Regions from separate parts of the Homo sapiens genome. Here all the other regions are linked to region 1. Evidence: fine-mapped expression QTL. A gene starts in region 1. Each other region holds a variant in brackets. All regions are shown on one strand. Distances are between the middles of the regions. Region 1 holds the start of CLDN23 (claudin 23). Region 2 has its middle 43 kb from the start of CLDN23. Region 3 has its middle 21 kb from the start of CLDN23.

The links.
Region 2: its variant is fine-mapped to the expression of CLDN23 in whole blood (INTERVAL, PIP 0.95).
Region 3: its variant is fine-mapped to the expression of CLDN23 in monocytes after LPS (Fairfax 2014, PIP 0.95). The same link has a PIP of 0.9 or more in monocytes after muramyl dipeptide.

The regions. Positions count from the first base shown.
Region 1 is chr8:8,696,252-8,706,954 of GRCh38, forward strand. It overlaps CLDN23 (claudin 23), which reads left to right and starts at 5,686. Exons shown (of 1, transcript NM_194284.3): 1 at 5,686-7,845. The coding sequence starts at 6,148. The coding sequence ends at 7,026. RefSeq lists a silencer at 5,419-6,038 and an enhancer at 5,512-6,479.
Region 2 is chr8:8,653,398-8,664,100 of GRCh38, forward strand. No RefSeq gene overlaps it. Among named protein-coding and RNA genes, the nearest start is that of CLDN23, 43 kb to the right of the region's middle. The variant A/G (reference allele first, on the strand shown) is at 4,298.
Region 3 is chr8:8,675,357-8,686,059 of GRCh38, forward strand. No RefSeq gene overlaps it. Among named protein-coding and RNA genes, the nearest start is that of CLDN23, 21 kb to the right of the region's middle. The variant G/C (reference allele first, on the strand shown) is at 5,236.

The DNA.
Region 1 (10,703 bases):
CCAACTCCCACCCAGCATTTCCCTCTTGTCAAGGGAGGCCACTGTGACTGTACGCCAAGAAGGGTTTGAAGCCACTAGAAGATAAAACTTAAGCATATTTTTTGAAATAGTGGCACAGTATCACAGGATGCCTTCTGATTTGTGTGAGAGGGTGGCAAGTTGATTCCTGTTTTAGTGGCCATCTAAAGTCGCCACACAAGAAATGAAATAAGACAAATTCAAAATGTTGTATACTCTCACGTGTGTAATCCCAGCAGTTTGGGAGGCCGAGGCAGGCAGATCACTTGAGCTCAGGAGTTTGAACCCAGCCTGGCCAACACGGCAAAACCCTGTCTCTACCAAAAATACAAAAATTAGCCAGGCATGGTGGTGTGCACCTATAATCCCAGCTACTCAGGAGGCTGAGGCAGGAGAATCGCTTGAACCCGAGAGGCAGAAGTTGTAGTGAGCCAAGATCACTACAGTGAGTGAGATTCCATCTCAAAAAAAAAAAAAAAAAAAAATGTATACATCACAGCAGCATTCACAATAACCAAAAAAGGTAGAAGCAACCCAAGGGTTCACTGATGGATGACTGGATAAACAAAATCTGGAATTTATCGACAATAGGATATTATTTTTTGCCATAATAAGAAGGAAATTCTGACATATGCTACAACATAGATGAATCTCGAGCGCATTATGCTAAGTGAAATAAGCCAGTCACAAGATAACAAATATTGTATGAATCCATTTACATAAGCTATCTAGAGTAGTCAAATTCAGAGTGACAGGAAATAGAGGGGTGATTGCTAGGGGCTTGGGGGATAGCAAGGATGGAGAATTGATGAATGGGGATAGAATTCCAGTCGTGCAAAATGGAAAGAGTTCTGCCAGTTGGTTGCACAACAAGGTGAATGAACCTAAGACTACTGACCTTTACCTAGGTGACCTGTACATGTAACATGTTTAAGATGGTAAACTTTATGTGGATGTTACTATAATTTTTTAAAAAGCGATGTATGCTACATTCTTCTATTGTGTTACTATGCAGGAACTTTACAAAAATTCTTTCATTTATTTAATAGATTTGTACTGAGTACCACTAAGAGCTAGGCACTATTCCAGCAGCTGAGATATAGCCACAAGCAACATCTCTAGTCTTTGAAACTTACAATGCGGTGTAGGAAACAATATAGATAAGTCAGTACACACATATTAGAAAACACGTGGCAGTGATAAATTCTATAAACAGAACAAATTAGAGGGAAGTGATACTGAGCTAACAAGAGGGCTATTTCACACTCGATGTGAAAAGTTATTGATTTATTTTCTACAATATTAGGCACTCACAGTTGGTAAAACAGCTGTTGGACTACTGGCCAAAAAGAAAAACTAATACAATATTGAAGGGGCTTTGTTCAATTCAGGCTGTTTTAATGCTATTTAAAAATAAAGATCATAGTTTAAGTTTTTTCATAGTCTAATTTTTATTCTATAACTCACTGAAGTAGATTTACCATAGGATGATTATCAGTGGAGTTCATTTCTCACTCCTATTCAGAATTCTCATAGTATAACATTGTGAACAAAATTGTCTTATCGCTTAGCAAACACAGGAAAGGGTGTTCAGAGTTCCAGGAAGAAAAAGAGAAAATAGCCTTTGGAGAAAGTAAAATAAAGACCTGGCAGAGGGAATCTGAGGACATCTTATTATGGCAAAGTGATCTAGTGCAGGGGTCCCCAACCCCTGGGCCACCAACCAGTACCAGTCTGTGGCCTGTCAGGAACTGGGCCACACAGTAGGAGATGAGCCATGGGCGAGCAAGCATTACTGCCTGAGCTCCACCTCCTGTCAGATCAGTGGTGGCTTTAGATTCTCATGGGAGTGTGAACCCCATTGTAACCCGCACATGCGAGGGATCTAGGTTGCCTGATCATCCAAGATGGAACAGTTTCATCCCGAAACCATCTTTACCCCCACAACCCCATGGAAAAATTACCTTCCATGAAACCTGTCCCTGGTGCCAAAGAGTTTGAGGACTGATGATCTAGTGGACCCTCTGTCCTAGCCAAAGTTGGTAATGTGACTTTCCAAGATGAAGCTGTTGCAGGTTGCACCTTTGTGCGAGGTGGTAGCAGAGGCCTAGAGTGCAGGCAAACAGGGGACTCAGCATCAGTCCCTTCAGAATTCACTGCTGGGGGCTCACTATTCATTTCAAAAGCTGCAGCATAGTGAACAGATTCTTGCATTACTACCGGGCCCTTCTTCAGAAAAGAAATCTGTGGTAGAACCTGGGTATCCACTTACACAGCCAGGTCCTAATGTCAGCAATCATTCATTCATTCCTACCACAGAGTGACTCATGCTTTATTTCTCCCTCAGACTTCAGATGAACTCAGAAGGCCAGGGAACAGAGGTCAGCTCTATCCCCAGATGCTATGCTTAACACAGTCACTTCTTTCTCTATTGTCGCAGAAAGTGAGCCCCACAGGCCTACGCTTATTTGTCGTAAATATCTGGAGCTATCCCATACTCGTATGGGATAGATTGTTTTCTATGCTAAGGAAAAAGAAACATTCAAACAAATCAACCTGCTTACTGAGATGTATGTCACAATCTGTTTTGGCCAGACGGTCATTTGTTGGAAAATTCAGTAGGTACTATGTGGAAGAACTCAGGGCAGAAAGACATAATATTGATTTGTTGAGTGGCTGCGGTGGCCCAGGCACCAAGATGTGTTTGGAGGACAGAACAGAACAAGATCTATGTGGTCCCTGCCCTCAGAGAACTCCCAGACCAGCTAGAAAACAAAATGATTCAAGGACTAAGGAACTGTGGTAAGTGGTGTGACAGAAGGGGTGTCACGGAAGTATATGAAAGGAAAAATTAATTAACTTCATCTAGGGGATGAGGAAACCCTCCCAGAGAAAATGGCACTTAAGCAAAGATCTAAGGATGCACTGGAGTGGGGAAGTGATAGGCAGGGCACTAGGAAAAGAGAAGGGCATTTGCAAAGGTCTGGAAGCAAAAGGGCACACAATGTTCGGGGAAAATGTGGGGGGAAATCCAGTTTCTTTGGGTTATAATGTGAGGAGATGAGGCGGCAGGGAGGGAGAGACAGGGCTGGAATGCAGGGCTGGGTGGGACTGGGAATGGTCTTGTAAAGGGTTGATGCAGGCCAGCTGTGAGGTTCGTGTGGCTAATAAAAAGGGAGCCACAAAGCCCGGTGTAGGAGACCAGTTAGCAGCTTAAGGAGAAAGATGGGAGAATGGCCTGTACTGGGAAGAGGCAGTAGAGAAGAAAGAGACATGGAAGGACGAAAGACAGATTTAGGAGGTAGAACCCCCAGGATGCCCTTCCTCCCCACAGGTAAATAACACCTGGGCTTCACTCATTCCACAGAGATCTAAGCAAAAACGAAACTATGTTGGAAGAGGATTCAAATCACATGAAGCATTTATGAAGTGGCAGTGTCACACATGATACCTTCTGACATGTATGAGAGGGATGGCAGACTGATTCCTGCTTTAGATAGTTAATCACCACACAGTTAATGAAACAAGACAAATTTTAAATGATGCATAGGCCAGGCACAGTGGCTCACACCTGTAATCTCAGCACTTTGGGAAGCCAAGGTTGGCAGATGAGTTGAGGTCAGGAGTTCGAGACCAGCCTGAGCAACAAGGTAAAATCCCGTCTCTACTAAAAATACAAAAATTATCTGGGCATGGTGGTGGGTGCCTATAATCCCAGCTACTAGGTAGGCTGAGGCAGGAGAACTGCTTGCTTGAACCCAGGAACCAGAGGTTGCAGTGGGCCGAGATTTTGCCGTCACACTCTAGGCTGGGCAGCAGAGCAAGACTCCATCTCAAAAAAAATTTTTTTAATTAAAAAAAATTAAAAGTGATGTATATATCACTATTACATAAATGATGCAACAGCATTATTCACAATAGCCAAAAGGTAAAAGCAATCTAAGTGTCTATGGATGGAAGACTGGATAAACAAAATGTGGTATTTATGCACAATAGAATATCATTCAACCTTCAAAAGGAAGGACATTCTGACACATGCTACAATATGGATGAACCTGGAGGACATTAAGCTCAGTGAAATAAGCCAGTCACGAAAGGACAAATACGGTCCGATTCCAGTTCTATGAGGTACCTAAAGTAGTTAAATTTATAGAGAGAAAAAAGTAGAATGGTGATCACCAGGGCCTGTGAGGGAGGGAGGAAAGGAGAGTTAGTGTTTAGTGGGTACAGTGTCAGTTTGGGAAGAGGAAAAAATCCCAGGAGTGGATGGTGGTGAGGGTATCACAACAATGTGAATGTATGTCATACCAATGAGCTGTACACTTAAAGATGGTTACAACGGTCAACTGTATGTTACATATATGTTACCACAGGTTTTTTTTTTAATTTAAAAATATTCTTTTAAAAAAAGCAGTCACTGTCATTCCTAGTGTTGTCCACTCTGGAATATTCAAAATTATTTCAAACCAATGCTAAATTAACTTGAATTTTAAAAATAGTTTTAATTTTAAACAATTATAAAGGCAATACGTTTTCATTGTAAAAATCTAGAAAATACAAAAAAGTGTTATTAAAGGATAATTTTTAGAAAAAATGTAAACATCGTGACTTTCACACAAATATAAAATGAATATGTGTGAAAGAGGTTATTTAACTCATTATTGAATAAGGAAACCAGTATGATGTTAAAACCAAAGAAGCTGGCCACTTGCCTGCAGTCCTAGCTACTCCAGAGGCTGAGGCGGGAGACTCACCTGAGCCCAGGAGTTTGCAACCAGCCTGGGCAACACAGCGAAACTCCCCAACCCTGTTTAAAATAAATAAATAAATAAATAAATAAATAAATAAATAAAAGAAAAAGGAAAAAAAAAAAGCAAAGAACAAAAGGACACACATATACAGACAAACAGGAATGCTAAAATGAATTTACAAATCAATGCCATACTGGTCAGTATCCATTGGACAATAATCATTCCACTGGGACGAACTCATTAGCCTTGATGTTGGCAAAAGTCATTTGCAATACTACAGGCTTTCTATAATTTATAGAGTTGTAAAATAACCTACAGACGAGAAAGGCCACAGTACACTGTAAAATTAAATAAACCTGCAAAAAACGCTAAGCAGGACATCCGGGAACACTGGTCCCTCTTTCTAGTCCCCTTGAAAGTCTCACAAGGCTGAAAAAGGAAAGTAAAATCCTTGTGTAACCCTTCTGCCCAGAAGTACACTGGCACAGATTCTTTAGAGACGAATTTAATCCAGAGTGTGGAGCCTTTATTAAGGAAATAATCCGGTGCAACGTTCTGGGACACGCTCCTGGACTGGGTGGGCTTCTGCACACTCACCCAGCGCACCTCCAATCCCCGGGAGCGCTCGGCACCGCCCACTTCTCTGCGAGTGGCTGCAAGTTGCAGAGCAAACCAGGGGGCGATCTGGAACCCTCTGGGAGTAAAGGGCTAAGCTATAAGCGCAGGGTCGACGGGCAGGGACCGGAAACAAATTCTAGGAACCGAGATCCGCTGAGCAGCAGGGAAGCTGCGCAGCCACCGCGTCCCGCCAGCGCCGCCTCTTTCCCTCCCCGCCCACCGCCCGCCTGGCCCGGCGGGGCGGCGCGAGGACCCAGGGGCGGGGCGACCTTTGCTCCGGCCGTGAGCAGTCCAGGCCAGGCGTGGCCCAGCCGCCCGGCTGCAAGGTGGGGTGTCCCCGCCGCTCGGATCCCCATCTCACCTGCCGCGGGCGAGGTGGCCCCGCCGCTTCCTGCGCTCACCTCGGGTCCCTCCCTCCCGGGCCAGGTTTGGCCGCGGCAGCCGCCCCTGGGCGCCCGCGCCCGGACCCGCGGTTTCGGTCAGACCCGCCCGCGGGCTGGTTTCGATTAGGGCCAGTAGGAGGGCGGAGCGGCCGGGACGCCAGGAGGGAACTAGCCTAAGTGGGGACGGTCCCCGTGCAGGAGACAAAGAGCGTCCCTGGAGCGATCAGGGCTCAGGAGCCCGACCCGGAGCCCGGGGCGTCCGCGCTGACTTCGGGTCCCCGGAGCCTGGGGCACGGCAGGGAGAAGACGACGGCGGAGAAGGCGACAGCGGAGAAGGAAGGCAGGCTGCAGGGGCGCCGTCGGCGCGGCGGGCCGGGATGCGGACGCCGGTGGTGATGACGCTGGGCATGGTGTTGGCGCCCTGCGGGCTCCTGCTCAACCTGACCGGCACCCTGGCGCCCGGCTGGCGGCTGGTGAAGGGCTTCCTGAACCAGCCAGTGGACGTGGAGTTGTACCAGGGCCTGTGGGACATGTGTCGCGAGCAGAGCAGCCGCGAGCGCGAGTGCGGCCAGACGGACCAGTGGGGCTACTTCGAGGCCCAGCCCGTGCTGGTGGCGCGGGCACTCATGGTCACCTCGCTGGCCGCCACGGTCCTGGGGCTTCTGCTGGCGTCGCTGGGCGTGCGCTGCTGGCAGGACGAGCCCAACTTCGTGCTGGCAGGGCTCTCGGGCGTCGTGCTCTTCGTCGCTGGCCTCCTCGGCCTCATCCCGGTGTCCTGGTACAACCACTTCTTGGGGGACCGCGACGTGCTGCCCGCCCCGGCCAGCCCGGTCACGGTGCAGGTCAGCTACAGCCTGGTCCTGGGCTACCTGGGCAGCTGCCTCCTGCTGCTGGGCGGCTTCTCGCTGGCGCTCAGCTTCGCGCCCTGGTGCGACGAGCGTTGTCGCCGCCGCCGCAAGGGACCCTCCGCCGGGCCTCGCCGCAGCAGCGTCAGCACCATCCAAGTGGAGTGGCCCGAGCCCGACCTGGCGCCCGCCATCAAGTACTACAGCGACGGCCAGCACCGACCGCCGCCTGCCCAGCACCGCAAGCCCAAGCCCAAGCCCAAGGTCGGCTTCCCCATGCCGCGGCCGCGGCCCAAGGCCTACACCAACTCGGTGGACGTCCTCGACGGGGAGGGGTGGGAGTCCCAGGACGCTCCCTCGTGCAGCACCCACCCCTGCGACAGCTCGCTGCCCTGCGACTCCGACCTCTAGACGCTTGTAGAGCCTGGGGGGCGCCGGGTGGCAAAGGACTCACCCCCGCACAGGCCCGCCTGGCTTCGAGTTGGAACCCGGACACTTGCCCCTCACTGGTGTGGATGGAAATCTGCCTTTCGTGGGACCAAACAGGACTCCTTGGACGATTAGTTCAGGTTGGGTTTGGTTTTCTTCTTAAAGAGTTTAGTTTTCCTCTCCAGAGGGATCAGGGTCCTCTTAGGGAGTGACGGGCTTTTCATATATTTTTGCTGAAGAATATATGGAAAGGGTGGCATTTGCGTCACGTGGACCAGGGACAGTGCTGAAATCAGCAGTGCTCAGAAACAATTTAACATGTTGAAACGACAATATTCTAAAATACTGATGAATCTTGCATCAATATAATTATTGGGTTTTTTTTCTTTTTCCTGCTGTATAACTCCTTGCCATGCAAACTCTCAAGAGGCCAATATATTCCTGGCCATGTTTGAATGAGCCTCTTAAAATAAACTTAGAGCCATGCAAATGCCAGCAGCTTAATGGATTTCATGGAATGAAATACCGTGATTAACTCATAGCTACATATCATTGCATAAATGGGATTTATCTTTTTTCTCACTTATTTTTGCGGTGAAAGTCGAGGGCATGCAAGAGTTTCTCTTCCAGAAGCCAAGAGGAGAACAAAGGTCCTAATGCTGTACTATTCCACCCTTTGGACGCCTCATCCAGGACGCAGAGGACTCTAGGTTTAACATTTTGTACAAAATGGAACCTGTTAATCATATTAAAGCACATATGTATATATCTTTTATTTATAAATAAAATTTTAAAACAATAGTTTCAGTATAGCCACAAAAGCTCTTTTGTCTTCAGTACAACGTTTGGGAGTTTAAACATTCATTACTAACAATTTCCTGGCTGCCTCGGCACTTGTGTCTGAAATCTAGCACTCAAATCTTTGCACCTCTTAGCATAAGGTTACTAAAAAAAGCCAACGGGCCCCACTTAAGTCCCTGATTGCTTTGGTTTTAGGTTCATGCCATTTCTGTGCAAAGCCAAGTCTATTGCTGAGAAAACGAGAAGCACCAGTTTCCACTTGAGGTGAGACTGGAAATCTTTTCCTTTGTAGCAGTGGTGTTTAGAATCACAGGAAGGCAGCTATGTGTTCCATGAAGGGGACTGGGTCTCCAGCAGGGCTGGCTTCAATTCCAAGTGGTTGATTTAAGGGTACCTTTAACCGAACTGAATCTCTTCTTTAAAACCTGCCGTTCAGAGGTAGGAACATTCATTCAGTTCAGCAAGCACTGATAATAGCTATAGTGAGGCTAACTTAATAGCACATGCTGCCTGTTAGAGTGGAAGGGATGACAGAGATTCACTTCCCTTGCCATTTGGTACTGGAATCACTTCTTTCTCTCTTTCTGAAGCCAGGCTTTAACGTGTAGGCGGTATCACTTTGGAATCTCTTTCAAATGCAGATTCTGATTCAGTAGATCTGGAGTGAGGCCCTGAAAAGATTTCCTAACTGGCTTCCAGGAGATGCCAATGCTGCCGGCTCATGGACCACACTTGGAGTTGCAAGGCTTTCGCTGGGACTGTCTCACTCAAATTTCAATCCCAACTGGTGGCTCATATTCAGACCTTTGAGTGCCTGCTACCGAGATGCGCTTGGGGACTTGCTCGAGGGTACAGAGCCAAAAGGGAGAAAGTGCAACAGGGCTCTTTTCCACTAACACCTCCGAAGGCAGCAATTAGGGACCTGAGAAGTCAGCACCTAGCAGACACCGTACAGGTACTGGGCTCCTGGCAAATGGTGAGTCTGGGCTGCATCATAATTCTATCTCCAGGGAAGCTTTGGTAAAAACACACAAAACTTTTGTGTGTTTTGCTTTTCTCCCCATCCCAATGATTCTCCACTGCCTTATATGCAAAACATTTCCTGCCTGAGGATTAGGATTCGGTTGCTGGGAGTTAAAACTCTACTTTTCCCCTATCAAGAGAACGAAGCCAAAACTCCTCCTTTAAAAATACAAACTCCTTTTTGCTATAGAAATATTCAAGACAGCCTGTAATCCCAGTGCTTTGGGAGGCCAAGTGGAAGGAATGCTTTGAGGCCAGGAGTTCGAGACCAGCCTGGGCAACATAGCTAGACCCCATGTCTACAAAAAAATTTTTAAAAGTTAGTCAGGCATAGTGGCAACATGTCTAGAGTCCTAGCTACTTAGGAGGCTGAGGCAGCAGGATCACTTGAGCCCAGGAGTTCAAGGCAGTAGTGAACTAAAAGCACATCACTGCATTCCAGCCTGGGCAACAGAGCGAGACTGTCTCTTAAATTAAAAAAAAAAAAAAAAAAAAAAAAAAAAAAAAACGGGCATGATGGCTCATGCCTGTAACCCCAGCACTTTGGGAGGCCGAGGTGGGCCCATCACGAGGTCAGGAAATCGAGACCATCCTGGCTAACATGGTGAAACCCCGTCTCTACTAAAAATACAAAAAATTAGCCGGGCATGGTGGCGTGCGCCTGTAGTCCCAGCTACTCGGGAGGCTGAGGCAGGAGAATGGCGTGAACCCGGGAGGCGGAGCTTGCAGTGAACCGAGATGGTGCCACTGCACTCCAGCCTGGGTGACAGAGCGAGACTCTGTCTCAAAGAAAAAAAAAAAAAAAAGGTTCAGGAGAGCATGGAAAGAGAGTCCTGCATCAGTCTGGGATCCACGTTTGCCCTGCGGGTCATTCTCTGCCACAGCAAGTCTCAGGAGTTGCTGCTGTGGGCAAGAATTTATCCTAAACTTTTCCTAAACTTACCACTGACCAGCCCAGCAACTGCACCACAGAGAACACACTCAAAGCACTTCTGTCTTGTATCAAGCCCTCTGACCTACCAGACTCATGTTTAATCCTCCCAATCCCCAAAGGAAGTATAAGTCCCCATTGAATGGATGAAGTCTTTTCTAGATTACTCAAGTGATGCCAGGAGGACGGTGAGTTCTGTGAAGGTAAGGCAGAAACTGCTTTAACACATCCCTGCTCTACCCGTTCGCCAATCTGGCTCTTATCTGGACACACGCCCTCACCAAGGAGGGGTGTGGCTTTGAGCACACAGCTGGTTCTCCACCGTGGAGGCTGCGGGAGGTGCTGTCAGGGTGCTTTGGCAACCATCCTTCCCTTCATTGTGTAGATCGTTCACCCAGTATGTTTTTGAGCGTCTGACATTTTGCCAGCACATTTGTGGGCACCATGAAAAACAATACCATCCAGGCCCATTCTGTGTGGAACTTAAATAATCTCCTGTGATCATGTACAAATAAAATGAAAAAGATTAAGCCAGAAATCAAGGGATGGAGGAAGAAAGGTGTTTTTTGTTTTTGTTTTGTTTTTGGGAGACAGGGTCTCACTCTGTCACCCAGGCTAAAGTGCAGTGACATGATCAGGGCTCACTGCAGCCTCAACCTCCCAACCTCAGTGGATCCTCCAGCCTCAGCCTTCCAAGTAGCTGGGACCACAGATATGCATCACATCACCCAGCTAATTTTTTTTTTTTTTAAACAGACAGAATCTCACTATGTCACCCAGGCTGGTCTCGAACTCCTGAGCTCAAGTGATCCTCTCACCTTGGCCTCCCAAAGTGCTGGAATTAGAGGTGAAAGCTCCCACACCTGGCCAAAGGTGATATTTTAGGAAAAGTGGTCAAGAAGAA
Region 2 (10,703 bases), 43 kb before region 1:
GGGCTGGAGGTGCAAGAAGTCATCATGGTGGTTACTCTTTAGAGGGAAGCTGTGGAAAACATCTGACAAATTTCCAACACGAAAAGAGAAATAAAAAAGGTTTTATCCAAAAGATCAAGAATCAGAATGGCCTCAATTTCCTCAACAACAACTAGAAGCTAGAGGAGAAGGGAGCAATGCCTTCAAATTTCTAAGGGAAAGTGATTTCCATATCCAGCCAAATTATTGATTAAATGTGAAAAAACACCAAAGTTTTTTTTTTCAAATGTACAAAGTCTTTAAGGATTCCTTCTGTGTAGAGAAAAACTCATACCACATTTCCCCTCTACTCACACCACCACAACAATCATCAACACAGAAGACTTCTGTAACAAATATGTGGACACCAGCTGGGTGTCCTCCAATTCAGTTCCCACACTGTCTACCCAGAGATAATGTCAGATCCCACAGGTTGGGGGCTCAGTCCACAAGACTGCCCCTCCTCCAGTTGCAAATCCAGGTCTCTGCAACTTCTTTTTATTTTATTTTTTTATTTTTTGAGATGGAGTCTCCCTCTGTCACCCAGGCTGCAGTGCAGTGGCATGATCTCAGCTCACTGCAACCTCCATCTCCCAGGTTTGAGTGATTCTCCTGATTCAGACTCCCAAGTAGCTGGGACTACAGGTGCCCACCACCACACCCAGCTAATTTTTGTATTTTTAGTAGAGACCAGGTTTCACCATGTTGGCCAGGCGGGTCTCAAACTCCTGACCTCATGTGATCTACCCACCTCGGCCTCCCAAAGTGCTGAGATTACAAATGTGAGCCACCATGCCTGGCCTCTGGAATTTCTGATCAATGGGCTTCAAGTTGGGGTTCCCACCACCTCCTCTATGGGTTGGATTAATTTGTGGGAGCAAATCGCAGGACTGAAAGAAACACTTACTTACATTTACTGGTTTATTATAAAAGGTATTACAAAGGATACAGATGAAGAGATGCATAGGGTGAGGTAGGACAGAAGGGGTGCAGAGCTTCCATGCCCTCCCTGGGTGCCACCCTCCAGAAAATTCCCTGTGTTCAGCCACCCAGAAGCTCACTGAACCCTGTCTTCTTGGATTTTTCGTCAAACTTCATGTCAGCAGGCCTTCCCCCGGGGTATTGGGTGGGACCCTTTCTGAGGAGAATCTAAAGACCCACATCAGAAAGGTGGGGAAGATTAGAGTCCTGCCTTGGGGCAGATGAAAGGAGGGCAGGAGAAGGTTGGAGAGATTCTGTTTCCTGAGGCCTAACACAAACCAGAATTATAACAAATGACTAACAAGGGCTATGGGACTTATGAGCCAGGAACTGGGGACAAAAACCGATATATATCATAACACCACACCTTCCTTTTACTCTTTTCTCAGGAAGCTAGATATGCCAGAAATATACCCAGAGAAAGCAAGATACGAGATCCATGCAACTAAAGAGAGAAAGAAGCAACGATCATTCCCAAATGTTGGCCAAGAGACAGCATAAGGCGACAGGTATACGGCAAACCCAGAGAGCCAGAAACCCAGATTGGCACAGGTTCGGAGGCTCTGACAGAGTTGTCTTCAAGAAGACAAATTGGCCAGGCGTGGCGGCTCACACCTGTAATCCCAGCACTTTGGGAGGCCGAGGCGGGCGGATCACCTGAGGTCAGGAGTTCAAGACCAGGCTGGCCAACATGGTGAAATCCCATCTCTACTAAAAATACAAAAATTAGCTGGGCATGGTGGCATGCACCTGTAATCCCAGCTACTTGGGAGGCTGAGGCAGGAGAATTGCTTGAACTCAGGAGGCAGGGGTTGCAGTGAGCCAAGGGGGCACCATTGCACTCCAGCCTGGACAACAGAGTGAGACTCTGTCTCAAAAAAAAAAAAAAAAAAAAGACGACAAATTGATAGAATACCTAGAAAGGAGATTTACACAATTAGGGCAAGTTTAGGGTTAACTGTGTATAAATTAGATGGGTGTATTATTGTACGTATATATGTTTGAATCACACGTTCATATTACTATACCTAATATATTATAAACATTATGAAATATAAATAAGAAAATAATGAAATAAAAATAAATATAAATAACAGCTCTATGATTTTCTTCCCTCCCCTTGCAGGTGCGCTGGGCAGGACACAGGCTGGAAGTGCTCAGGGGTTATCTTGTGCATTTCCTGCCTGTGCCCCACAGCGCACCCACAATACAAGCAGTGCCTTCCTTGTATTCGTTGATCAGATAAACCAAGAAGAACCATCAGGCCTTAAAGACATGGAGCACAGAAACTGGGAGAGAAGGTCACATGTTGGTAGATGCCAGGCTCCACTGTAATAAGTCCTGCTGGGTACCCCAAGGTGGGCCCTGAGAAGCTCAGGCCAGCATGAGGTCCTGGACCCTGGAGTTGATGATCAGAAAATTATCAACTCCTGGAAAAAGCAAACGCCCTCAAGACCATCTCAGTTACAGTTCTCCTTTTAGCAATGAGAAAAATGTATGCTTTAGAATCTTGCCTGTCTAGTTCTACATCCATTTAACATATCTGCTTTTGATGGACTCCCAGATAAATGCATGAAACGTAAATATAAAGAGATCGTGTGTGTGTTTAATTTCCTGTCCTAATTGTCTTCCACTGCCTACACAGGCTGCCAAGTCTCTTATTTGCTGCCATTTGGGATGTGAGGTTTCTCCTCATCAATTCCTCTACAGTTCCTGTAAGAGCTCTGAGCCAGAGCTGGGCAGTTTGTTCAGAAAACTTTCTCTGAAATATTTTTAAAGAACTTCACAGAGCCCTTGTTATCTAATAGACAGGCCAAAACATTGACTCCAGGCATGTTTTCCTTTCTGTTTCATCAAAGGAAAATGAAGATGAAAAGCCTTTTTGTAAGTACTTATTCCCTATTAGGAAATTGTTTAAGTAAATCACTTTAGTCAAAAATGTTAGAGGCAGTCTGCCTAAGACAGAATATTTCAGTGGCTAACTTTAATAAATGCTAACTTACAAATTGAGCTCATTGGCCATAATTGCTTGCAACAGTAGGCACTAAACACAGAGATTAGCATAATTGTGATTATAACTCCCATTAGCATTTGTAATGTAATTATAGCCAAGTAACGTGCCAGGATGGAAAGATTCTACTAAAACTTCTCTCGCAAAGACACGAAAAGTGCATGCCCTTCCTCCAGGAGGTAGCATCACGGGGAGATGGCTCTGTGGTGAGGCCTTTAACCTCCCAGCATCTCACTTTTGCATCAGCAAAACATTTTGTGATTATTCAGTATACCTGGCAAGGATACACTGCTGGAAGAAAACTGTTTCTGCTTAAGATGGAGTCAGATTTTGACTTAAGGTGGACACATTTTGCCACCTGCCTGAAACCAGTATGAACACACACAAACAAGAACAGCAAAATGTATTAAATGACAGTTTGCAAGACGTTGGTTATCAGGCAATGAAGCACAGTGACCTCCAAGAGATGGGAAACAAATTAGTGGAGCCCTATTTTTGCCCCAGCTCACTGTCTTGAGACAGTTTCCAGACTGTGGCACAGGAAGGGAGAACCCAGGTAGAAGCTGGTGGACTCCTTTAGGCAAGAAGATGGAAATGAGAGTCCAGGGATAGCAAGGCAGCTGGAGTTTACAGGACAGAGAACCAGCAGAGATAGTTGTACAGAGAGAGAATCCTGGGATCTGGACGGGGTTCTGTCAATATTCACACAGTATTGATCGTGACAGCATGTGAAGATACTACTCAATGCCAGAGGGGCGAAAACATCTGAAAGGATCAGAGAAAAGCACACAGTGTTCACCAAGTGTCAAGACTATTAGCTGTTCCCTCCCACCAGCCAGCCAGGGAGAAAACACATTTTTGAACACTGGGCAGAATACTCATGAACATTCTGTCTTAGCGGTGGGAAATAATTAGCCGCAGACCAAACACTGCTCCAGATCCACCTCACAAATTATGAAATCTAAATCTGAAGGGCTCAAACTATACCCAAGCAACTTAATTGCATCCCAGAGAAAAGCTTAAGAACAGCTATAGGAAAGCAAAGTATCACGTATCCAAAAATGGTAGTAACCACAACGGGTGGTATCTGATAAGGATTATCAAACATAGAAAGTATAAGGAAAATATAACACATGATGGGGGAAATAATTCAAAACTGACTCGAAACTGACACAGATGTTATCATTAGTAGACGAGTACATTGAGCAATTATAACCATATTCCAGATATTCAAAAAGTTAAGTAGAGAAAAATGATTTAACAAAAATACTCTAATTGAACTTCTGT[A/G]AATAAAAAACTACAATATCAAAAATTTAAAAAATTGATGGGATTAATAGTAGATTAGACATAGCAAAAAAATAGATCTGTAAATTTGAAACCATGGCAATGGAAACTATCCAAAATAAAAACACTGAGAGGAAAAACAATTTTTTTTTTCTTTTTTTGACATAGAATCTCACTCTGTTGCCCAGGCTGGAGTAGAGTGGTGCAATCTTGGCTCACTGCAACCTCCGGCTCCCAGGTTCAAGCAATTATCCTGCCACAGCCTCCTGAGTAGCTGAGATTACAGGTGTGTGCCATCACACCTGGCTAATTTTTTTGTGTGTTTTTTTAGTAGAGATGGCGTTTTGCCATGTTGACCAGGCTGGTCTTGAACTCCTGAGCTCATGTGATCCACCTGCCTCGGCCTCCCAAAATCTGGGATTACATGTGTGAGCCACCACGCTTGTCTGGAAAAAAAATTTTTAATTAAAAGAGGATCAGTGAATTCTGAGACAACTTCAACTGGCCTAATACACGTGCAGTGGAGTTGCCAGAGGAGAGGAGAGGCAACTGAACAAATATTTGAAGAAATGACAGTTGAAAACATTGCAAACTTAATTGAAACTAAAAACTCACAGATCCAAGAAGTTCAACAAACCCCCAAGCAAAAGAAGCATGAAACAAAACACTAAGACATATCATAATCAAATTGTTAAAGAAATCAATAATAGACACAAAATATTAGAGCAGCCAGAGGAAAATAATAAGATGTTACATAAAGAGGAAACAAAAATAAAGATGAGAATAGATTTTTTTAATAGAAAACAATGTAAGCCAACAGACATCTTCAAAACATTGAAAGATAAAAACTATCAAGCTAGAATTTTACACCAAGCAAGAATATCTCTCAGAAACAAAGATGAAATGAAGATGTTTTCAAACATAGAAAAACTGAAAGAATTCACTAGCAAATCCACACTGCAAGACATTTTAGAGTCTTTTAGGCAGAAGGAAGTAAGGAGCTTCACAAAAAAGGAACACCAAAAATTGTAACTATATGTGATTTTTCTTATTAAATCTATTTACAAGATAACTGAATATTTAAACAAAAATAAGAACAATGTAGTTAAACTTCATACGTGTAAGTAAAATATATTACAGTGCTAGCAGAGCAACCAGGAGGGGGAAATAGAAATATTCTATTCTGTGATTCTTTTTATTTTATTTTATTTTATTTTTTTGAGATGGAGTCTCGCTCTGTCACCCAGGCTGGAGTGCAGTGGTGCGATCTCGGCTCACTGTAAGCTCCGCCTCCTGGGTTCACGCCATTATCCTGCCTCAGCCTCCTGGGTAGCTGGGACTACAGGCACCTGCCACCATGCCTGGCTAAATTTTTCTATTTTTAGTAGAGACAGGGTTTCACCATGTTAGCCAGGATGGTCTCGATCTGCTGACCTCAGCTCTGTCACCCAGGCTGCAGTGCAGTAGCACGATCTCGGATCTGCAACTTCCACCTCCTGGGTTCAAGTAATTCTCCTGCCTCAGCCTCCCAAGTAGCAGGGATAACAGGTGCCCCCCACCATGCCCAGCTAATTTTTTTTTGTATTTTTAGTAGAGATGGGGTTTCACTGTGTTGCCCGGACTGGTCTCAAACTCCTGACCTCGTGATCCACCCACCTTGACCTCCTAAAGTGCAGGGATTACAAGCATGAGCCACCACACCCAGCCTCTATTGTATGATTCTTACACATAAAGTGGTAGGTCAGACAAAAGAAGACAGTGAAAAATTAGAATTATATGCTCTCCACTATAAACTATATACACTATATTTTACTACTAAAATGACAAAAAGATTTATAGTTAGTAAGCCAATAATAAAAAAAAAATTATTTCAAGGATCAGTTAATTCAAAAGATGGCAAAAATAGAAAAAAGTGAGTAAAGAACAGATAGGACATCTAGAAAACAAACAGCAAGATGGCAGATTTAAACCTAATCATATCAATAATCACATTAAATGTAAATGAGCTAAACAATCTTGATTAACTGCAGAAATGGTCAGACTGGATTGAAAATCTAGACCGAAATAAATACTGTCTATAAGACATGCTCTTCTTGCTCTCCTGGCCCCCACCCACACTGGCACCAGGGAAAGGCCATGTAAGCACATAGTGAGAAGGTGGCTGTTGGCAAGCCAGGAAGAGAGCCCTCACCAGAACCCAAACATGCTGGCACCCTGATCTCAGACTTTCAGCCTCCAGAACTGTGAAAAAATAAATTTCTGTTGTTAAGTCAAAAGAAGAAGAAGAAGAGGAGAAGGAAATGTTCTTTATATATTAAAACATGGGTAAAGTAAAATAATTTAAAAATTATTTTTAATGATATACCATACTAATACTAATCAAAAGAAAATTGGAGTGGCAAATTAGTAACAGTGGCACACAATAACAGAGCTTCAAACTACATAAAGCAAAAATTGTTAGAACTACAAAGAGAACAAAATAAATCCAAAATTATACTTGGAGATTTCAATAATTAGCTCTCTGATTGACAGAAGTAAAAAGAAAGTCATCAAGCTTATCAAAGATTTGAAAGTCACTGTTAAGCAACTTGACATAATTGACGTTTATAAAACACTCCACCTAGCAACAGCAAAACACACAGTGTATTCAAAGACACACAGAGCATTTGCCAAGATAGACAATATTCTGGGCTATAAAACAAGTTACAATAAATTTGGAAGTGTTCATGTCATACTAAGTATGTTCTCTGACCACAATGGAAGTAAATTCAAATCGATTATGAAAAGATCTCTGGAAAATCCCAATTATTTGGATGATGGAAACTAAATAATACACAATTATATACTTGTAAATACTAAATGGATTAAAGAAGAAATCAAAAGAGAAATTAGAAAGTATTTTCAGTTAAATGAAAATGAACATATAGAAATTTTCAGGATGCTGTTAAAGCAGTTCTTAGGGTAAATGTGTAACACTATATGCCTACACTAGAAAGAAGAACGTTCTGAAATCAATTACCTCATCTTCAACCTTAAGAAACTAGAAAAAGTAAGACCAAATTAAATCCAAAGTTACAAGAGTGTTTGGACTTGCTCGTTAATAATAGCTTCTTTAATGTCCTTCTAGAATATTCTATTATCTGTGTCATCTAATCATTGGTGTCTGTTGATTTTCTTTTCCCATGCAAATGATACAGGAGCTAGAAATAAATTATTTAGGCAAATAGTGAGGGTAAAGAGTCTTCAGCAAGGCTTCCCTTCTAACAAAAAGTAGCCCAAGAAATTATTTTTTCTATCAAGGAGCAGCCTGAAAACTTAAGCTGCAAAGATAGATAATCAAGCTGGAAGCTTGCATGTGTGAATGCCAGCAGTGTACCAACAGAAAAGGGCTACCCGGGGGCCAGGCACATCCAACATGGAGGCTCCATCTTCCCTTCTCTTTATTACCAAGTGTACAGTAAAGAAACAGGCGACATGGCTGCAGCCAGGTAGAGAACCCATCCATAATACAAGATTAGGGTGGGAGAAGCCAGTTTTTCACACCCTATGCAAATGGCACACCTAGTCCTAACCAGCTTTTTTGTGCCTTATGCAAATGGCACACCTGGTCCGACCAATGTTTTGGGACCTGTATACATCAGACACTACCTCCTCAAGCTCTGCATTTCACCGTAGACTGGTGACCCGTTCAGGACCCCTATCTCTGCAGGAGAGAGCTCTTCTCTTTCTTTCACCTATTAAACTTCTGCTCTTAAGCTCACTCTTTATGTCTTAATGTCCTAGTTTTCTGTGGCTGTCAGACAACGAACCTCAGGTATTTACCCCAGACAACGATGCCACTTCACAATTAGAGGTTTTTTAATATCACAAGTAATTTTGGTTTGTATCCTGAACATTTTCAGTATTATGCTGGGTCTTGTTTCTATCTGCCAGTTCTATGGCTCTTAGAATTCTGGTGTTGTTCCCTGATTTCCTACTGTTATTTATTTTGCAGAGTTTTCAAATAGCTGTCATTGTACCCTGTCCAGGTTTCAGAGTTGGGCTTAGTGGGAGGTAGGCAGAATTCTAAGCTGGGTCCCAAGAGTCCTACCCCCTGGTTACATGTTCATTATGAGCCCCTTCCCTTGAATGTGAGCAGGATTTGTGGGTACAATGGAATACCACTCCCATAATTATTTTGCTTTATATGGCAGAAGAGATCTTGCAGATGTAATTAAGATCCCTAATCAGTTGACTTTGAATTAATAAAAAAAAGATTATTCTAGATGAACCTAATCTAATCGGATGAGCCTTTAAAAGGAGTCAGAGAATTTCAAAGCCAGATAGATGTCAGCCTTGAAGATGCAGCCTCTGTGAGTTCTCCAGTTGCAAGGAAATGGATTCTGCCAACAGCCACATGAGCTTGGAAGAGAACCCTGAGCCTCAAATGTGACCCCAATTGACACCTGATTGCAGACTTGTAAGAACTGGGGCAGAAAATCAAGCCAGCTGTGGTGGCTCACACCTATAATTCCAGCACTTTGGAAGGCCGAGGCAGGTGGATCACTTGAGGTCAGGAGTTCTAGACCAGCCTAGCCAACATGGCAAAACCCCATCTCTACTAAAAACAAAAATTAGCCAGGCGTGGTGCTGCATGCCTGTAATCCCAGTTACTTGGGAGGCTGAGGCAGGAGAATTGCTCGAACCTGGGAGGTGGAGGTTGCAGTAAGCTGGGATCGCACCACTGCACTCCAGCCTGGGTGACAGACCAAGACTCTATCTCAAAAAAAAAGCAATAAAAGAGAACTAAGGCAGAAAAGCCTGCCAGGACTTCTGACGTACAGAAACTGTGGCTCAAGCAATGATGTTGTATTAAACTTCTTCTTCTTCTTTTTTTTTTAAAAGACAGGATCTCTCTCTGTTTCACCCAGCCTGAAGTGCAGTGGTGCAATCTCAGCTCACTGCAACCTCCCAAGTTCAAGCGATTCTTCCACCTGGAGTAGCTGGGACCCCACCCCAACCAGCCATTTTTTGTATTTTTTGGTAGATGCAGGGTTTCACTCTTTTAGCTAGGCTGGTCTCGAACTACTGATCTCAAGTGATCCACCTGCCTTGGCCTCTCAAAGTGCTGGGATTACAGGTGTAAGCCACCTTGCCTGGCCAATCTTCTATGTTTATAGCAGTTTATTACACTGCAAAATTTAATAGACTTTATCCTACGTGAAACTGTGTCTTAAAAAAGAAATTCTAGGTACTCTATGTTTGAGCAAACGTTATCCTTTAAGTATTGATTAATACTCAATATGCTTTCTAACAAAGCTCTTTGTTGATTTTCCTTCCTCCGTATTCCCAATATAGAATTAGGGAAATAACTTAAAGATTCAGATCTCCTCAACATCAAATTTCCAGCAGTGTAGACTCTAGCAGCTCATCTTTGTGCAATTACAAGCTGCTTCATTACTTCTTTTCCTTTGCCCTCTTGGTTCATCAAGCTCACTGAGTTTTATGAAAGAAAAGCTAATCTTGCTATATAATTGCATTAATTATTGCCACATGAGCCACTCAGCAGGGACAAATAGCAAGCCTGGTATAATGAGTAAACTAGAAGAAGTAACCATTTATAGCCACTCATAGGATAGGCCAAGTCAAAGTTACCATGAAATGATAGGTTGTTTTCTCCAAAACATGACAGCTATCAAAAGAAAGTATAACTTTCATTTAAGATATGCAAGGTGGCCAGGCGTGGTGGCTCCTGCCTATAATCCTAGCACTTCTGGAGACCAAGGCAGGAGGATCACTTGAGCCTAGCAGTTCAAGGCCAGCCTCGGCAACATAGTGAGACCCTTGTCTCTACAAAAAATACAAAAATTAGCCAGGCATGGTGGCACATGCCTGTGGTCCTAGTTACTCGGGATGCTGAGGTGGGAGAATCACCTGAGCCAGGGAAGTTGAGACTGCAGTGAGCTGTGATCACAACACTGCACTCCAGCCTGGGCAACAAAGTGAGATTTTGTATATACATATATATATATATATGCAAGGTGTCATATCTATTCAATCTGCGTGTGGGGACACAGACAACATTGAAACACTGTAGCTTTTTTTTTTTTTTTTAGCTGGAGTCTTGCTTTGTCGCCCAGGCTGGAGTGCAGGGGCACAATCTCAGCTCGCTGCAACATCTGCCTCCGAGGTTCAAGTGATTCTTCTGCCTCAGCCTCCCAAGTAGGAGGGATTACAGGCACCTGCCATCATGCCCGGCCAAGTTTTGTATTTCTGTACAGATGGGGTTTCACCATGTTGGCCAGGGTAGTCTTGAACTCCCGACCTCAGGTGATCTACCAGCCTCAGCCTCCCAAAGTGCTGGGATTACAGGCGTGAGCCACCGCGCCCGGCCACAAAGCAGCATATCTCTTGTGATGCTTCTTGGGGG
Region 3 (10,703 bases), 21 kb before region 1:
AGAACAAGTCGGGGGACCAGGTCATGTTGGACCGCAGGCCAGGCCAAAGAGTTGGTATTCCATTCTAAGGGTAGTAAGAGCTTTCGGGCTTTTCAAGCCTGATCTGACTTATGCTTTCAAGAGATAACTATAGCTTCTGTATGGCTACTGGGCCATCAAGGTACAAGATACTGGCAGGAACCCAGATGAACGGTGATGGTGGCTTGGATTACAGCTTTAGTCAGGGAGATGATAAAGAGTGGTTGGGTTCAAGATACATTTTGGAAGCTGCCCAGATAGAACCTGTTGATGCACTGGACATGAAAAGAAAAAGAAAGCGGTCAAGGGTGACTTCTAGGCCAGGTGCGGTGGCTCACGCCTGTAATTCCAGCACTTTGGGAGGCCAAGGCGGGCGGATTACCTGAGGTCAGGAGTTTAAGACCAGCCTGGTCAACATGACAAAACTCCATCTCTACTAAAAATACAAAAATTAGCCAGGTGTGATGGTGGGCGCCTGTAATCTCAGCTACTCGGGAAGCTGAGGCAGGAGAATCACTTGAACCCAGGAGATGAAGCTTGCAGTGAGCCGAGATCACACCATTGCACTCCAGCCTGGGCAACAAGAGTGAAACTCCATCACAAAAAAAAAAAAAAAAAAAAACAAGGGATGACTTCTAGTTTTTTGTCTGAGCAGCTAAATTAAAGAGAGGTCCATGCAGGAAGAAAAGGAAGACTAGGCAAGAAGTGGGTGGGATGAAGACAGGGGAGAAGTTCACATGGACAGTTTGCTTTGGATCATGTTAAGTTTGAGGTGCCTCTTAGAAATCCAAGTGGACAATTCCATATGCAATTCTGGAGCTCAGATGAGAGGCTAAGGGTCTTCAACATATGCATAAGATGACTTGATGGCCTTAGCAGCAGGGAGAGACAGAGGAGAAGATATCCCAGATCAAAATCCTGGAGCACCCCCACATTTAGAAATCCACCAAGGAGAAGGGAACTAAGGAGATAAGTAAAAGAGTCGTGTCAGTGGAGGAATTCCAGGCAACAGTGCAATCCTGGAAGCCTGGAGAAAACTACATTTCCAGAAAAGCAGAGTGTTCAGCTGTGTCAAATGCTGCTCTGAGGACAGGAAATTGACAGGAATTGACCATGAGATTTAACAGATATGGAGGTCATTGTGGAACTTGATGGGCTAGAGCCAAAGAACTAATTGGAGCAGGATGATGACAAGAGTCTGTGAGAATGGAGGCCTAATATCAAGTCTTTTGAGAGGACACGCTTTGTTCAGAAGCAGAGCCCTAGAGCAGTAGCGGAAAGGAGATGTGCGATCCACAGAAGAAATTTTAAAGATGGCACCACGCAGGATACTGTATTATCTCAATTTTTACAATCGCACCATGCTACAGGTATTATTGTCCTCATTTTATGCATGAGAAACCTGAAACAGAAAAGTGAATTCCTCACGCATCAAAATTTTTAAAACCTAAAGAACAGCAAATGCTATTATTACGTGAGACCTGAACTGTTTCCACAGGACCCTCATGTCTCCCGATAAAATACAACAGCAAAGGTCAAGTACTTTTGTTTTCCTGTTCAACAGAATGACGCAGTCGTATGCCAAGCAGCCTAAGCGGCCTTATTTGTATCTTTCTGTTACTTGTTGACTTCGAATCTTTGATTAAATACAGGAAGCTTTCTGTCACTTTTGAGTCACTGGTCAGTATCTGCCTTGATCAAGCCTGAATTTGGTTTCCAAGCTGGCAGTCTTTCTTCTAGCTATGCCTCTCAAATCTTTCACATGAAATGATGCAACAAGTTTTTAGGTCATCAAAAGGTATTTTGCTGTTATTGTTGCTTTAACTCTTAAAATTGGTAACCTTAGTAGTACCCAAGATTTCAAGACTTATCAAGGCTGACACAGTCTATAGAAAGTCCAATTTTGTCTTAAACCATGACAGATTACCCTTAAAAGGAATAAACTCAAGCATTTATTTTACTGAGATTAAAAGACATATATTTACTAAGTGTCTGCTCTATGCCAGGAATGGTGTTAGAGGGAGGCTGGTAGAAAACACAAAATAGGCTGGGCACGGTGGCTCATGCCTGTAATCCCAGCACTTTGGGAGGCTAAGGCAGGTGGATCACCTGAGGTCGGAAGTTTGAGACCAGCGTGGCCAACATGGCGAAACCCCATCTCTACTAAAAATACAAAAATTAGCCAGGCGTGGTGGTGCACACCTGTAGTCCCAGCTACTCAGGAGGCTGAAGCAGGAGAATCACTCGAACCCGGGAGGGAGAGGTTGCAGTGACCTGAGATCGCGCCACTGCACTCCAGCCTGGATGACAGCCCAAGACTCCGTCTCAAAAAAAAAAGAAAAAAGAAAAGAAAAGAAAACACAAAGTTGCCAGTGCCCTTGCAGTTGTGTGACAGAGCAACCACGGGAGACCCTGGGAAAACCAGCCCGGAGAAATCTGCCTAGGGGTGAATAGTAACCTATTTGGTGTGAGCTGAGAAAACTCTATATTTGAATTTATATGCAAAACAATCGATTCATTATATCATTATATGCACTGAAGGCAACAGCATTTTTATTTATTTGCAATCGTCCTAGAATTAGTTTTTAAAAAGCGTGTTGAAAGTTCTTATAACTTTTTTATATTAAATAATATACAGCTATTTAGAATAAAATACACACACATGCTATGAATAGAACTAGTTATAGTAAATTGTTTTAAGTCTAGATAAAATTATATTATTATGTAAATTATATAACACAACAGCATACATAATCATACTACATGTAGTATTCTATTTATATTAAAGTTTTCATTTTAGATAATAAACCTAATCTGTTATTCTTAGAAAAATACACTATGCCAAAAACTGTTCGTGCTAGAACTGCGGCTGACCACAACTGCCAAATTCAGGTCCCGCTCAGGTGGTATCTGGCTGAGGAGGGCAGTTCTTTTTTTGGGATGGAGTCTCGCTCTGTTTGCCCATGCTGGAGTGCAGTGGCACAATCTTGGCTCACTGCAACCTCCACCTCCCAGGCTCAAGCGATTCTCCTGCCTCAGCCTCTTGAGTAGCTGGGATTACAGGCACCCGTCACCACGCCTGACTAATTTTTGTAATTTTTTTTTAATAGAGATGGGGTTTCACCGTGTTGGCCAGGCTGGTCTCAAACTCCTGACCTCAAGTGATCCACCTGCCTCCGTCTCCCAAAGTGCTGGGATTACAGGTGCCCGGCTGAGAAGGGCAGTTCTTAATGGCTCTGCACAACTTGCTGGTGTGCACTCACAAGTAGTCAACAGAGGTAGAGTATGACACCCAGGAGGCGTTTTACACTCCCTGTGTTGCAGAGTGGTTGGGCCCAGGGTCTGCTTTCCTGGTTCTGTAAGAAGGAGTGTACAGAGAGCTGAAGTCATTGGCTCCGTGTTTCTGATTTGTTCTTATGGCATATTCATATCCAAAGAAGCTTCCTCGAGGCCAGCTTCCTTCTCCCCTTCTCTGTCTCTGCTTTAACCAGAAATTCTTTTCCTTCAGCTCAAATTACCAACATTTAAAAGGGAAAGATTCTAGGAGGAATAACCATAAAATAATTTAGGGCTAGCAATGTATGTATTAGTCTGCTTTCACACTGCTGATAAAGACATACCCGAGAATGAACAATTTATAAAGAAAAAGAGGTTTAATGGACTCACAATTTCATGCAGCTGGGGAGGCCTCACAATCATGGCGGAAAGGGAAAGGCTCGTCTTACATAGAGGCAAACAAGAGAGAAAGAGGACCAAGTGAAAGGGGTTTCCTTAAAAAACCAAAAGATATTGATAGACTTACTCACTACCACAAGAACAGTATAGGAGAAACCACTCCCATGATTCAATTATCTCCCACTGGGTTCTTCCCACAACACATGGGAATTATGGGAGCTACAATTCAAGATGAGATTTGAGTGGGGACACAGCCAAACCAATGTACATTGGATGTGTGAATGTATAAAATTCCTTGTGTCCCAAATGGAGGGCTTTGAGAATGTAGGATGCTGAGTGGCAGAAGTTTTCCTCTGCCCTTGGGAAAAGAAGGCAGGCTTCAAAGACAACCTTAGCTTCTTCACAAAAATGCCCTTTGCAGCTCCTGTTTCCATGGGGATGGAAATATGTAACTGAGAGTTGTGATGGGTTGAATTGTGGCCCCCTAGAAAGGTATGCTGAAGTTCCAACTCCCAGTACCACTGAATGTGACTTGACTTGGAAATAGTGTCCTTGCAGATGCAATTAGCTAAGTGAAGATGAAGTCAGACTGGAGTGGTGGGTCCTTAGTCAGATATCACTGGTGTTCTTCTAAGAACAGGGAAATGTGGACCCAGACACTTAAGGAAAAGGCCACGTAATGAAGGAGGCAGAGATTGGAGTTAACGCCGCTGCAAACCAAAAATTGCCTAAGGCCAAAAGAAGCTGGAAGACACAAGGAAGGATCCTCCGTTAGAGGCTCAGAGGAAGCGCGGCCCTGCTGACACCTTGATTTCAGACCATAGCCTGCAGAACTGCAGGGTAATGCATTTCTGTTGTTCTAAGCCACTCTGTGTTTCTCTGCAACAGCAGCCCTAGGAAAAAACACGGATGTTAATCAAAAAAATAAAGAAACTTTGAATGCCAACATTACACAAAAGCAATGTGAGAAGTCAAAGGGAAACAAAAGTCCTAAGCTGTTATACAATATCCTTGTGTTTCTTATTCTAGAGAGATGTTAAAAAGGTACTTATTTTCCACCACCTTAAAGGACCCTATTTATCTGTTCAGATGGAAAAATGGACTTTGGAGATTGTGGGGTCAGCCTCCTGACTCTTTGTTCTAAACTCTGGGAACCAAAAAGGACTCACCTACAGTCCACATAGCCTCAGTTTTTACAAGAAATAAAATTTTAGCTAAACTCAGGACCATACAACAGATCGGTTGTGCTTGAAAAGTTGTGTTTTAGAATATGGTTTTCCATTACATGAATAGCAACAAAACTGCTGAGTCAGAAACTCAAGCAACCTCTCCTAACCTCTATCCCGGGTTTTGTAAACACTCACTGGATTCTGGGAAATCACGAGACAGCAGTAAGCAGAATTCCATTTTACCATTTATTAGTCATGCAAACTTGGGCAACTTATTTAATCTTTCTGAGTCTTAGTTTCAACATTTGTAAAAAGGACATTTGTAAACTCCTAATCCACAGATTAAGTGTTAGCAGAGTTTGGACCAAGGACC[G/C]AAAACTGAAAACAAGAAGTGTCAAGCACCACCACGTTTTCAGGCAGGCTTTTGGCCATTTCCACAAGACTTGCAGAATTATCCCCAAACCCATTTGCCGCCATTGCCGAATGAGCCAATTACTCCTCTCAAGATATAAAAGAGAATATTAATAAGATGTGCTAGAGAGGCTGCCAGGGAGAGTGTCCTTGTGGAGGGCTGCTGGGGTGCCATGCAGTTCACCCAAATGGGAGGAGGCAGGTAAGGAAAGGGGTGCCCTTCTGCAACCCACCTGCTTCAGATCAGAGAGAAACCAGAAAATATTAGAAAATGTTGGAAAACTTGAAGTGTGGAGAGTATGCATGGACTGGTGTCTCATTCATGGTTTTTGTTTTGCTTTGTTTTTTAGAGACAGGGTGTCACTGTGTCACCCAGGCTGGAGTGCAGTGGCATGATCATAGCTCACCGCAGCCTTGAACTTCTGGGCTCAGTCAATCCTCCTACCTCAGTTTCCTGAGGAACAAGGACCACAGGTGTGCACCACCATGCCTGACTAATTAAAAAAAAGTTTTTAGAGAGGGGATCTTGCCATGTTGCCCAGGCTGGTCTCAAACTCCCGGCCTCAAGCGATCCTCCCACCTCATCCTCCCAAAATGCTGGGATTATAGGTGTAAGCCACCATGCCCAGCCTCACTTGTGTTTTATAAAAAGGCTGAAAGCGAGAAGCTGTGGCTGAACTTCCCTGGAGGCAGAGGGAGGAGTGGGCTCTAGGAGGAGCTAGAAGCACCACACCAGGGGCATCACAGCGGCTATGACTTCCATGGGCCAGATGGCCTTGATCTGGGCCAAAGAAAGAAAGAAGGAGACTCCATCTGAGAAGACCATCTTGGGAGGAGGGGAGGTGGCAGCAGTAATCCCCACCTACAGGGAGTCAGAGTGGATAGAAGTTGAAGAGGCCAACCCAGGAATGATCATTGGTTGTGCCCAATGGGGCTGTCCAAGATCCCCACAAGAGGGACCCAGGAGACACACAATCCATATGTGGCCATGTGCCACACTTGTGTGGGCAGATTAGCACTGCCCCAGTCAAAGACAGCCTTTTCAGCCCCTCAACACTTCTCCTCTCTTCCCTTGAACCCCAAAGGAGCACAGTAAGTTCGGGGAAAGGACTAGTGGAAGACAGATGAGGGGATAGGAAGGAAGTTAACTGTGGCCTGGCCACACTGTAGACCTCCTAGCTGGAGGCAGGATGCGTCTAAGGAGAGGAAACACTGTGGTGAATTGGATGTGGGTTGGGGCTGGGTGCGGTGTCTCGTGTCCATAATCCCAATAATTCAGGAGGCCAAAGCGAGAGGATCGCTCAGGGCTGAGAATTTGAGACCAGTATGGCCAACACAGCAAGCCTATGTCTTTATGTATTTACTTTAAAAATATTTTTTAAAATAAAAATAAAAAATAAATGTGTGTTGGCATTTCAACTATGTATCAGATTTTTTAATATCTGAAGGTGATAGGTAAATCAATGAACTCAGAAATTCATCCAAGGACAGAGAAGAGCAATTATTGGAAAAATACATGCCATGATATTGAGGAAGAATCAGGTTGGTTTTTACTGTCTCTCTGCAGAGCCCGCCTTGTACAAAGAGCCCTGGGAGATACCGGGAAAATGGGGAGGCCACACCATGGCAGAAGACTCTTTCTAGAGGGATGTCTCTGCCCTGATCTTCCTAGGGAATTTTTGCACTTTTTCTTATGGAGCCTGGAGGAGCATGATGAGTGATGGTGGCCAAACTGGTTCTGCAGAGATGGTCTGGCACCTGCTGTGGTTGAGCTTTGAAGCCTCTGCCAAACACAAGGAGGGCACAGGAAAAGTCACATTTCACACCCCGTTGCAAAAGAATAGGATGAGTTGATGTGAGCTAAGTACTATGCACAATGCCTGGCACCCAGGAAATGGTATATGGAAGGTACAGCATCTTCATTTTACTATAGACAGAATGGATGCTAAAATTCATCCAAATCTTTAGTTGTCTCTATAATCTGAAATTCCACTCTCTGATTAATAAAGTTGTCTTTAAGAAAGTGGTTTTTCATTACGGAAATGAAAATTGTGACTAACAAACTCAAGTCCAGCCTCAGTCTCAGGAGGATCCGTTATGCAAAAAGGACCCTGCCTTTTGCAACATACAACACACAAACCCACAGCGGGTTCCAGTCTCAATGGCTCACTTGTCTGACAGGATCTTCGCTCAGAAAGAAACAATTGTCAGGTTCATGTTGTGGCCTAGCAAGAGTTTGGAAAGTTCCGTAAAGAAAAATAATGTAGACAAATTTAGAACCTGCCCCAGGTGTGTTGATTTGACGCCAAACCATGGATAGGTAACTTGATTCAGCTGAACCTCGTTAAAATAATGTTGGAAAACATTACATTACTGCAACGTCCTTTTTATTTATTTATTTATTTACTTATTTTTTTATTTTTGAGAGAGAGTCTTGCCCTGTTGCCCAGGTTGGAGTGCAGTGGCGCAATCTTGGCTCACTACAACTTCTGCCTCCTGGGTTCAAGCACTTATCCCACTTCAGCCTCCCAAGCAGCTGAGATTACAGGTGTGCACCACTACGCCTGGCTAATTTTTGTATTTTTAGTAGAGATGGGGTTTCACCATGTTGGCCAGGCTGGTCTCAAACTCCTGACCTCACGTGATCCACCAGCCACGGCCTCCCAAAGTTCTGGGATTACAGGCGTGAACCACCACGCTCGGCCCATTACTGCAACACTCTAAGAAATCGGTAATAACCATGTCATTACAGAGAAGCCCAAACCTTCCTATTCTATTTGACATGCACTAATTGAAAAAAGGCACTTTGATTGCTGTAACATAAGCCTATCATCCACTGAATTAGAGTCCATAATTATTAGAATCTATTTTGATGAGCACCTGCTTTGGGGGATGAAATACTCTATATGAGGCCTCTTTCTATCTAATATAGGACTCTTTATCTTTTTAAATGGTGATTTGGTGGCAGATGACAGTCAACATGTCTCTGAATCATCATGAGTTTTTAGCATTTTACGGAACTGGTTTGGAGATTAAAACTAACATCATTTTGTTACAACAGTGGTGCTGTGTAATAAAAAGGAGAAGTCATTCGTAGAGTTCATAAACCTTTTTTTAATAATTTAGATTTTAGGCCGGGCACAGTGGCTCACTCCTGTAATCCCAGCACTTTGGGAGGCCAAGGCAGGCGGACCACCTGAGGTCAGGAGTTTGAGACCAGCCTGACCAACATGGTGAAACCCCGTGTCTACTAAAAGTAAAAAATTTGCTGGGCATGGTGGCATGTGCCTGTAGTCCCAGCTACTCGGGAGGCTGAAGCAGGAGAATCGCTTGAACCCGGGAGGCGGAGGTTGCAGTGAGCCGATATCACGCCACTGCACTCCAGCCTGGGAGGTTGCAGTGAGCTGAGATTGTGCCGCTGCACTCCAGCCTGGGTGACAGAGTGAGACTACATCTCAAAAATAATAATAATTTAAAAAAGTGAATAATTTATATTTTAATTCATTCAACAACTATTCAGTGAGGGCTATTACATGCCCATAGGTAAGTGTTGCAATAAAAAGAAGAAATTTTTACATTTCTATTTTTTAAGGAAGGCATTTTCTGACATTTATGAGTAAGGATATTCCAAGAATATTGTCATGTATCTTGTTGTTTCACAGCTCAAGCTATGGGAATGAAAATTTTAATCTGAGTTTCTAATTATTTCCCCGAGACAGCTTGAGAGAGGGGGAGGTAACTTCCCCCATCTCCTAGGTAGGTGGTAGGTAACTAACCCTGCAGTGCAGAACCAATGCTCTGAAAATGACCAGGAAAAATGCCCCAATATCTACTGCTTCCTTCTAAGTGGGAAGATGGGAAAAGAATATTGGAAGAAAAAAATCAAAGTGATTATGAGAAAATCATAAGGGTAAAAATAAAACATGAGAGAGAGGAAAAGCAGCAGCTCTATATTATTTTTTAAGTCTTGTTATGGCAGTTGGTTGCTTTTATTTTCAAGTGGGTTAACCTGACATTGTATTCACTTTGACTTTAAATGCTAGAAGAGTACATTTCAGCAAAAAGAAAAAAAAAAGGCAATGGGAAACTTTCATTGTTATAAATGAAAAGTTGGCCAGGCATGGTGGCTCATGCCTGTAATTTGAGAATTTTGGGAGGCTGAGGTAGGAGGATCACCTGAGGTCAGGAGTTCAAGACCAGCCTGGCCAACATGGTGAAACTCCGTCTTTACTACAGAAATTGGCTGGGTGTGGTGGCATGTGCCTATAATCTCAGCTACTCAGGAGGCTGAGGCAGGAGAATCATTTGAACCTTGGAGGCAGAGGTTGCAGTGAATCGAGATCATGCCACTGCACTCCGGCCTGGGCAACAAAGCAAGACTCCGTCGCAAAAAAAAAAAAAAAATATATATATATATATATATATATGTATGAAAAGTGACCGTAAACATCTAGGGAGCTGCAGGTGGAAAGAGACAACACCCAAACAGATAAACAAGTGTCTAAAAATGCTGGCAACCGAGCAAGCAAACAAAAGGCATCAGACTTCACCTTGATCCATTATCAGATCTCAGAGTCATCTATGCAATCTTCCTCCCTGAACTTTCTAAATATCCAAAGCCAAATTCCTCCCCTCCCACGTCCCTGTCCCTGGCCTCGCCATTCACACACACCTTCTTTTCCCTGTCTTGCTGTGAAACTTGGCTTTCGCCATGCACCCAGTCCCCAGGCTAACCACCACCCCCAGTACCACATTACTTTTGCTCTTCTCTTCTGGAATACTGACTTCCAAGTCTAACATCTGTCACGTGATACACCGCAATTAAATAGCCTCCTAACCAGCCCCCCTTTCTCTCTGTTCTGCTACAGAGTGATGGCTCAAAACCAAATCAGGGCATGGCATTACCTGGCTTTAAAACCACTCATAGTTCTCTCACCTGCAGAATAAAGACCACACCCTCCAGCGTGACATTCAAGTTTTTTCTGAACCTGCCTCAGCAGCGTCACAGTGATGGCGATGGTGAGATCACACACACACATTTGTACATTTATAGTAGGACAAACTTCATGACCCTCAGGAGTTACTCTTCCAGGTTTTAGCTCCCACTGTTTCCTCTGCCTGGATCGCTTTTCTCCTTTAACTGCCTGGTGAAGTCTCATCCTTCAAGTACCAGCTCCCCAGCTCTATTACTTCCTGGAAGAGAGCTCACATGGAGCTAGAGTTAAGAGTGGTTCCTGCTGACGGCCCAGCACAACAAGGCAGAATGAGTGTGTGTGTCTACAGGCAGGAGTGGCTTATGCTACTTAAGAAAATCAAAGAAACAAGAGGACATATTTTTAAAATAACAGAAATGGAAGCAAACTGAATGAATTTTTTAAAGTTGCTGGAAAGAGAAGAATGAAACATGTCACAAAATAAAGAGACAAGATG